Homo sapiens: one gene and its partners. The protein of the gene in region 2 interacts with the protein of the main gene of each other region in a pairwise test. Each region holds a gene or a part of one and is shown on either strand. Other genes may lie near its edges.

The links.
Region 1: the proteins of CCDC92 (region 2) and TRIML2 interact in binary tests that used the Homo sapiens proteins (3 or more experiments, as listed by UniProt).
Region 3: the proteins of CCDC92 (region 2) and DISC1 interact in binary tests that used the Homo sapiens proteins (3 or more experiments, as listed by UniProt).

Annotation. Positions count from the first base shown.
Region 1 is NC_000004.12:188,107,411-188,111,169, forward strand, and holds the start of TRIML2 (probable E3 ubiquitin-protein ligase TRIML2), read right to left. Parts: upstream 2,194-3,759; 5' UTR 1,833-2,193; intron 1-1,832.
Region 2 is NC_000012.12:123,945,232-123,947,823, reverse strand, and holds part of CCDC92 (coiled-coil domain-containing protein 92), read left to right. Parts: exon of another isoform or gene 1-2,120; intron 2,121-2,592.
Region 3 is NC_000001.11:232,038,670-232,041,820, reverse strand, and holds the end of DISC1 (disrupted in schizophrenia 1 protein), read right to left. Parts: 3' UTR 549-3,151; downstream 1-548. UniProt on the Homo sapiens protein: Involved in the regulation of multiple aspects of embryonic and adult neurogenesis. Required for neural progenitor proliferation in the ventrical/subventrical zone during embryonic brain development and in the adult dentate gyrus of the hippocampus.

The DNA of each region.
Region 1 (3,759 bases), on a different chromosome or scaffold from region 2:
TCTTCGTCAATAATGAGTGCAAAGGAGTACTGATTCCAAAAAGTTGAGAATCTTGGCCTGAAAAGGCATATTCCCCACAAATAGGACTGTGAATGAATGCATCCATAATTTTGATATGTTTTGTCAGTTTCCCAAGCACAAAAGTTGTACAATTTTGCACTCCAAGCAACAAATTAAAAAGATGTTAAACTTTTGGATCATTGCCCACTGGCTGGGTGAGAAATAGTGTATTCATATATTTTCAACTTCCATCTGTTATATTATTAATATGTCTAAGCCTTTTATTTTCATATGCTAAAAAACCATTTTCACTTCTTTTGCTGTGAAGTCTATGTTCAAGCCTCTCTCTCAGTTTATTCCATCAGGTTTGGCCTTTTTGGAGGGAGGGGTCAATTTTAAGAGAGAGCTATAGATCCAAGTTCCTGTAAATTGTGTGAGTTGCAAATACTTTCTCCCTCCTTCCTTGTTTTTGATGCTCTCATCCTTTCTTCTGCTTAGGTCTTTGAAATCCCTGCTGGTTTCCCGTGTCTTAGGTCCCTGAACATGTCCGAGATGACTCCACTGAGTCACCAAAACAAAGAAATTCACCAACTCAAATTTTTCCTTGAGCTCTCAGCAGCAGTTAACATAGCTGACCACACCCTTCTTCCTAGAATGTTTTCTTCTCTCATCTGTCTGCAGCTGACATTCCTCTAACTTGTCTGGTCTTGTTCTCCGTGGCCTTTTCTGGTCCCACATCCTCTGAACCTCTCAATCTTGGGGTGCTTCAAGGTTGAGTTCTGGTCTCCCAGTCCTGGTCTCTCCCTAGGTAATCTTACTCGTTTCTGAAGATTTAAGTTCCATTCTCCGATTTCAATCTCCTGCCCAATTCCCAACATTTTTGCAATAGAATGTCTAAGGAGCACTCAAAATTAACATATCTAAAGCCGCTCAGGATCTCAACCCAGTGGCTCTCTTCCCCCAAACTCATTCCTTTAGAGCCACAGTTTAAGCCTTCCTTTCACCAATTCAACTATTGTTTTCCAAATTTATATTCTGTCCTGCCCTCCTCGTCCATCTCCAGCTCCTCTCTGCTCAACCACCAGAATACTATTTTAAAACCAAAACCAAGTGAGCAGGTTTGTGGTCACTTTCTATGGCATTAGAGTAAGATCGAAGTGGGTAATAACCCCGTCCTATACAATCTGGCCTCCTGCCTTCTTCTGATCTCTCTATAGCTTTCCCCCATCACTGTCAATCTAGCTGCCTCTAATTCATCACAGCCCTTCCCCCTTCCGTGGCCAACAGAGCTCTTCTCTCATATTTTTGCAATTCCAGCTGCCTCTTCTTTCTTCTCTTCAGTTCTCAGCTCAAATGTCTTCCCAAGAGAGACCTTTCCATCACTACTCAATTTGAAATACCTTCCCACTACTCATCTCCTTATTTTATTTTCTTAGTAGCGAAAAGATTTTATCTTTCTATGAACAAGTTTACTTGTGGGTCACTCTCCATCCATAAGAAACTAAGTCCTTGAGATGCCCTGTGTCTACATCTGACATACTCGATGCACAATAAATATTGTAAACGATATTTTATGTTAAACCAGTAAAAATTGAAGGTGTAATGAGAGAGGGACAGAGACTAAATATTTTTACAGAAACAGCAAAGGAAAATTGACGAATTAAGTCCCCAGCATGTTGTCTACCCTTATTTTGTTTTTCCTAATATTTTTCTTCAGGCTTTTTCCTGATAACACACAGATACACACACACACACATAGATTCTAAGATCAAGTTTAGAAATCTAAAGAAACAATTATTAAGAAAATGATCTATAGAGAAAATCTCACTTACTTTCTTTGTAGCAATCCTGGGTATTTCCTTTTTTTTTTTTTTTTTTTTTTTTGAGACAGGGTCTTGCTCTGTCACCCAGGCTGGAATGCAGTGGCGCAATCTCGGCTCACTACAGCCTCGAGCTCCCAGGCTCAAGTGATTCTCCCACCTTGACCTCCTGAGTAGCTGGGATTACAGGCGCTGCACGACCACACCCGGCTAATTTTTGTATTTTTTGTAGAGACGGGGTTTCAGTATTTTTCCCAGGCTGGTCTTGAACTCCTGGGCTCAAGCAATCTGCCTGCTTCAGCCTCCCAAAGTACTGGGATTACAGGAATGAGTCACCACACCGAACCAAGGTATTTCCTTTAGGGAAAAAGCTGGAACAGTGGAGACTGAAGAGATTTTATCTGTTCAATTCCTCCCTCAGCCCCGCCCTCACACCATCAGGAAGGCGTCTGTGAAGTTTCTTATCATATTCACACAATTAATCTCATTAGAACCACCTGAGTTTATTAAAACGCAAGCCTCTTCACAGGGTCTCTGATTCCAGAAATCTACGGTGGGGTCCGTAATTTACATTTTTAATGGACTCCCAGAAAATGCTTAATAGCCCTGACCTTGGTTGGATAAATATCTTGTTTTATCTCCAGTGCCATGTACAGTGCCTAACACCTCTAGCTCCTTAAGGTTTGGGGTTTTCTTTCTTAATGAATCTAGTGTATATTGACAATTTCACAGGAAAGAAGCCTTCGAGCTAACACTCAAGACTGTGTTTGTTCCTTAGTAGAAAATAATGCCTGACTTGTTAGTTTCTAGAACGTTTGCTGGAGAAGTGTTCATTCCAGTATCTGTGGAAAGAAAAACCAAGAGTAGGGATAACTGCCTATGGAATCTGTCACAGATGGGAGGTCAGGGAACAATCCCAGATAATTCATACTTGATATTTGGCTTCAGTGAGGAGGAACTCTTCACAGCTTTCTAAGTTTTATAGTTTTGTCCCCGAGGGTTTTTATTGCATCAGTCAGTCAATCCCCTGCTAATCAAACCAGGGAGTTTTTTTCTTTATGCTGCTGACAGGATAATGAGAATTCTTCTGCTTTGCTTATCTGATCTTTCAGAACCTGGTTCTACCTTATGGAATCTCAATACACCGTTTCTCTTTTTCTTTTTTCTTTCTTTTTTTTTTTTTTTAGATGAGAGTCTCACTCTGTTGCCTAGGCTGGAGTGCGGTGGAGCGATCTCGGCTCACTGCAGCCTCCGCCTCCCAGGTTCAAGCAATTTTCCCACTTCAGCCTCCCGAGTAGCTGGGATTATAGGCGCCCACCACACCCAGCTAATTTTTGTATTTTTAGTGGAGATGGGGTTTCACCATGTTGGCCAGGCTGGTCTCAAACTCCTGACCTCAGGTGACCCACCCTCCTTGGCCTCCAAAAGTTCTGGCCACCGCGCCTGGCCATACACCCTTTCTCTTATCTCAGATGATTACCTACACCCACTCTCTTTTCCAAAACCCAATTCCCCAGCTTTCTTCAAATAGACCACATTTATTCCTGTGCCCCCTCCCCTCCTCAGCCAGTCCATCCTCCTTTACTTCTCTTATTTTTCTAATCCAATCTTCCTTTCTCTTCTAAGCCTGGGTACGGCCAACGTCTGTGAAGATACTCACACATACTTGTTGTCAGATACTCTGTCATTTACTCTCACCATCCCTTGAGCTTTCATAACTCTTGAGCTTACTCATCTTGACAAGAAAACTTTGTAATCTTTGAATCAAATGGAAAATAAACATCAAGCATATTGTCAGGTTTTGAAGTCTCTTAAAGCCTGTTTTAGAGTATTAAATGCTTAAATAAATACTTATTAAAGCCTGTTTTACTATTAAATAAATATTTATTAATAATTAAATTATTAATTCTAGAAGAGTCAATATTTTAAGATAATTCTA
Region 2 (2,592 bases):
CACAGTGTGGAAGGGGACCCGAGCGGGTTGCCACTGCTGGCTCGGGCAGCCTGCTTTTATTTTCTTATCTGGCCCCACCCACATCCTGCTAATTGGTAGAGCCCAGTGGCCTGTTTTGACAGGGTGCTGATTGGTGTGTTTACAATCCCTGAGCTAGACACAAAGGTTCACCACCTCCCCATCAGATTAGTTAGATACAGAGTATCCACACAAAGGTTCTCCAAGGCCCCACCAGAGTAGCTAGATACAGAGTGTCGATTGGTGCATTCACAAACCCTGAGCTAGACACAGGGTGCTGATTGGTGTGTTTACAAACCTTGAGCTAGATACAGAGTGCCAATTGGTGTATTTACAATCCCTGAGCTAGACATAAAGGTTCCCCACGTCCCCACCAGACTCAGGAGCCCGGCTGGCTTCACCCAGTGGATCCCACACCGGGGCTGCAGGTGGAGCTGCCTGCCAGTCCCGCGCCGTACGTTTGCACTCCTCAGCCCTTGGGTGGTCGATGGGATTGGGCACCATGGAGCAGGGAGCGGCACTGGTCGGGGAGGCTCGGGCAGCACAGGAGCCCATGGAGTGGGTGGGAGGCTCAGGCATGGCAGGCTGCAGGTCCCGAGCCCTGCCCTGCGGGAAGGCAGCTAAGGCCTGGTGAGAAATTGAGTGCAGCGCTGGTGGGCTGGCACTGCTAGGGGACCCAGTACACCCTCTGCAGCTGCTGGCCTGGGTGCTAAGCCCCTCATTGCCCGGGGCCGGCAGGGCTGGCAGGGCCGGCCCGCTGGCTGCTCTGAGTGCGGGGCCCGCCAAGCCCACGCCCACCCAGAACTCCAGCTGGCCTGCAAGCGCCGCCGCACGCAGCCCCGGTTCTGCTTGCGCCTCTCCCTCCACACCTCCCTGCAAGCTGAGGGAGCGGGCTCCGGCCTTGGCCAGCCCAGAAAGGGGCTCCCACAGTGCAGCGGTGGGCTGAAGGGCTCCTCAAGTGCCGCCAAAGTGGGAGCCCAGGCAGAGGAGGTGCTGAGAGCAAGCGAGGGCTGTGAGGACTGCCAGCAGGCTGTCACTTCTCAGAAGCACCTAAATAGGAAGCCCATGGAAACAAAAGCTTTTCAACCCTGAAGCCCTTACATTCCTCTGGCACCACAGCTGCACTCAACAGACTGGCACCAGGCCCATTCGTGGGCCTCCAGGGTGCCAGGCACTGTGCTAGGGCTTAGGGTGCAGCAGTGAACAATCTGGAGTCTGTGCGAGGAGGCGGGAAACAGACCCACACTTACAGACCCTCACAGAGACACAAAGACTAGAACTGGGGACAGGGTGGTAATGCACCCGAGTCTGGGGGCCAGGGCTTCCGGGAGGAAGTAAACTTGTACTGAGACCTAAAGGATAAGTAGACAGTGGAGACCCAGGAGAGGTGGGTGGGAGAGAGGCCTAAGAAGAGTGTTCTGGGCAGAGGAGGAGCCATGAGAGGGCACCAGGGTGGGAGAAGCACAGCCCAGCAGGGCACCCGGAGGAAAGCTCGTGCCACCTGGAGCCCTGGGGGTAGGAGAAGGGCCAGCGAGGGTGGCGGGGCCAGTTGCAGGGCCGGGCAGACCAGTCTGATTCTCAGAGCAGTGGGAACCATTGGAGGTTTTTAAGTAGTCTCAATTTAAAAACAAGATCACTCTGCTGCCACGTGGAGAGCAGAATGGAGCAGGTAGGAGAGGACAGAGGGAGGCTTTCTGGCAGGGATTTGGGTGAGGGTGAGGACGGCCTCAGCAGCGGAGACGGGGAGAGTTGAACGGATCTGAGAGCTGCTTTCAAAGCAGGATGCCAGCAAGATCATCATGGACTGGAAATGGATGGCGGGGGATGCCAGCGTCAAGGCCACCCCCAGGTTGTGCAGCTGGGGACAGTGCTTGTGAGGGGTAGGACACTAGGCCTAGGGCAGCTCTCCTGTCATCCAAGACCCACTAAATTCTGGATCACATTTAAATGGTTCTTTCTCTTTGACAGCAAGCCACTAACATATGGGCTCTGCTTCTTCCATCAGCCAACAGAATCCTGGATTTGAGTCTGTCCTTTGAAAGCATCTCTGCTAGAGTTCCCACTTCCAAACCCCTTTCAGCTCTTCGGGATTCAGCCTCCAGGTGAGGTGCTGGAATTGATGCCAGAGTGAACGACTCCGGATTGCTGAGTGGAAGGAAAACGTAGGCACCGCTACTGACAGCTCTCAGGCGCTCCTGGGATTTTCCTTCCTTTGACGCTGAGGCTGTTCCGCTTTCAAGCGTTCTGCTTTGTGAGGGAAGGGCAAGGTCAGAAGGTGCTCACCCTTTCCACAGCAAGCACGCGGCACACGTGTGCCACACGCTGAACCTGCCTTGGTTGTAGCTGGCTCCTTTGTTAAGGTCAGCGCCCCCCAAGACCACGTGCTGTGCAGACAGTGTTGGGATCTCGGGAACTGTGGGGTTCCACTTAGAAACTAGTGTCTGGCCCAGCAGCCTACACAGGAGAGTTTGCGGTTACAGCACAGAGACGGTTTCGGGGACAGAAACATCCTTTCTCACTCCTGCCGGAATGCTGCTCACGGCTCCACTGAGGAAAGCCCTGCTTGATGGAAAC
Region 3 (3,151 bases), on a different chromosome or scaffold from region 2:
TGACTGATGGAAATTTTTAAATTTATGATGCCTTCCTATCCAAAAGCTTAATGTGTCTTTCCATGTATTCAATTCTTGTCTCATGTCCTTCATCTTAAAATTTCCTTCATCTAAGGCTTATGCATTTCTTATATAAATATATTCTTAGCCATTTTCTCTTGCTTTTTGTTGCTATTGAAAATGGGGTCTTTTCTTATACTCAGTCTTCCAATTATTGTCTGCATATATGAAGCCTGTTGATTTTGATTGTGTTAATTGTGTAAACGTTTTTCTGTTGATTCTTTTGGGTTTTCAGCTTACAATAACATCATCTGTGAATATTAAAGCTTTATTTTTTCTTTTCCAAATTGTAACCCTTCTATATTTTTCTTGCCTAACTAAATTAGCCAGCATCTCCAGTAAAATATTTTCAGTGGTATTGTGGGTATCTTTGTCTTGTTCCCAACTCTAGTGGTAATGTTAGTTTCAATTTCCTTAATCTAGGAGTCTGGGAATAGAATATTTCATGATTTTCTGATTTGCTGATATCTGAAAGTAAACACGTGCAATTCTAAAGCATGACTTTATTATAAATGTTTCGTGTGATGTAACTGTACAATTAATCATCCTGTAACAGAAAGATGAGATGAATAAACCTGATACATTTTTCTATCATCCATACTTCAAAGGACAAAAAATCATCAAGATGCACCATGCCTTGGATATCAGCTTTTATTTTGTATAACAAAAAGTAACCTTAATGAAGCAATAAATTACATGACAAAATTCAAAGATTAGATAAGGTGAGGATATTAAAAGTAAAAGTATTGAATTACATATACAAGAAGGCATTGACCAGTAAATGCATGGTTGCTTTTCTCCACAACACAGAATTCATAATATTGGAACACTTCTGAAAAACACCAATTGGATGAGGATCTTCAAGAAAGTCAGCCCAGTGTCAGGCTGTGAGTGGTTTTCCTGGGATGACTGGGGAATGGTTAGATCAGGATGATGGTGGGGTGAATAGGTTTGTTGATGCCTGTCTGAGCCTAGACTTCACAGTGAGGCTCCCCTGGCAGTGTGGGAAGCCTCGTTTGCCCCAGGCTCAGTTTCTTTGACTCCCTAACCAAGATTTCCACAGTGGCCATGAGTTCTTAGCCAGGTGAACAAGTAAGTTCCATGGCTCAAAATCTCAAAAGGACATTAAAGGAACTTTAGGAAGAGCACTAGTTAAGAGCATGCTGCCTGTCTCTGACTGTTAGGTTCACTATTACTTCACATTTTACCAGCTCTGTGCCTTAGAAAAAGGGAATTAGTCCTCTTAAGGCTCAGTTGCATCATCTACAAACACCTTCCTTATAAGGTTGATATGGGGATTATAGGATATGACTGTAAAGGGCTTAGCATGGCAAGGGCTTAGCATGGTACCAACCGTTACATGTTTCTGGGGTGGGGAAACCAGCCTTACTGCAGGGAAAGACAAGTTTCCAATAGTATATACTAATTTGGAGAAGGATCAATTCAGTTTTGAAATTTCAGAAAGTTGGCCGGGTGCGGTGGCTCACACCTGTAATCTCAGCACTTTGGGAAGCCGAGGTGGGGGTGGATCGCCTGAGGTCAGGAGTTTGAGACCCTCCTAGCCAACATGGTGAAGCCCTGTCTCTACTAAAAATACAAAAATCATCAGGGCCCGGTGGCAAATGCCTGTAACCCCAGCTACTTGGGAGGCTGAGGCAGTAGAATAGCTTGAACCTGGGAGGTAGAGGTTGCAGTGAGCCGAGATTGCGGGGCCACTGCACTCCAACTTGGGTGACAGAGAGAGACTCCATCTCAAAAAAAAAAATGAAATTTCAGAAAGTTGGATGGAACTGGGACTATTACTGATAGCATGTCCTAACTCAGGCCAGTGAAAGAAAAATGGGTGACCATTTGAAAGCCAGCATTCCAGCAAGGCAGACAGTATAATATCACACTTACATTCTCATAAAACATCCCAGTCAAATCAGATTCTAACTCATCATTTCCAGTATGTGCTTTTGCTTGTGGTCTTGGCTATCGCCAACATAAATTTCCATTGTTGTTGTTTTGATGCTTTTAAATCTAAGCCCTAACCTCTCTTGGATATTTTTATGTTCCCCTGACAAAAACTGCTGTATAGTATGATTGAGGATACACAGTCCTGTGTCTCCCAGGGTCAAAGTGGCTTAAGACAGTGGGCTTGTCCTGAGAAGGTTGTGTAGCCAGAAGAAGCACGCTGGCCCTTAGCGGACTTTCTGAATGATACTCTAAGACCAAGCAAAGACAACAGATGAGTTATGGCTTGTGGTTAAAACATGACTCACCTGCCCAAATACTTCAAAATTTGCAGCAGGGAAATGAACACACTATCTACTAGAGGTACCAAAGAACCCTTATTTCGGGTTCAAACAATTCAAGGCAGTTATTAACTTGCAGAATTTTCAAATACATCATGACCTCACAGAATTATTTCATGATGGTGTCTGAGTAATACAAAACACTTGGGCTAGTGACGGTTAAGATGTCTTGTGTCTGGGAGGCTTTTTGAAAAGACATATGTCGAAGTAGGAATTTGTTATTGGCAATGTGGCCAATCCTGACTCTTCCCAAGTTTTGCTTCACTGGAATTAACTCAAGGATTCCAAGTGCCATGTGACCAGTTCATAATTTTCTTTAGACACAATTATAAATAATTCAGGAATTTGGTTCATCATTGAAAATGAAGTCCAGGAACAAGCTAATTATACTTATTATTAAAATATGTAGAGTGTATTTTGCTCGAGATAAAGCCATAGGGAACACAATCAGCACATTCACATATTGTGCTTTTGCTTTGTTTCCTGGACCCCAGCCAATTGCTGGCTTAAGCATGGCCATCTCCTTGACTGAGGACAGAAGTGCTGCACAGCATGGAAGGCTGAGCAAAGCACCAGATGCCTTCTGGAAACGCCAGTGTGACTTCAGGAAATGACAAAAATGGTCTCATATCCGTGGATCCTAGTGAAGGCAGGAACCTCACTATCCCTAAACACATAAATGAGAACAGAAGCACAAACAGAACAACCACTGGATTAAATTTACCAATCTGTGGCAGGTAGTTATTAAGCTCAACACTCTGCAAAAGTGTGAGTGTGGTTTCTAAAGTGATGTA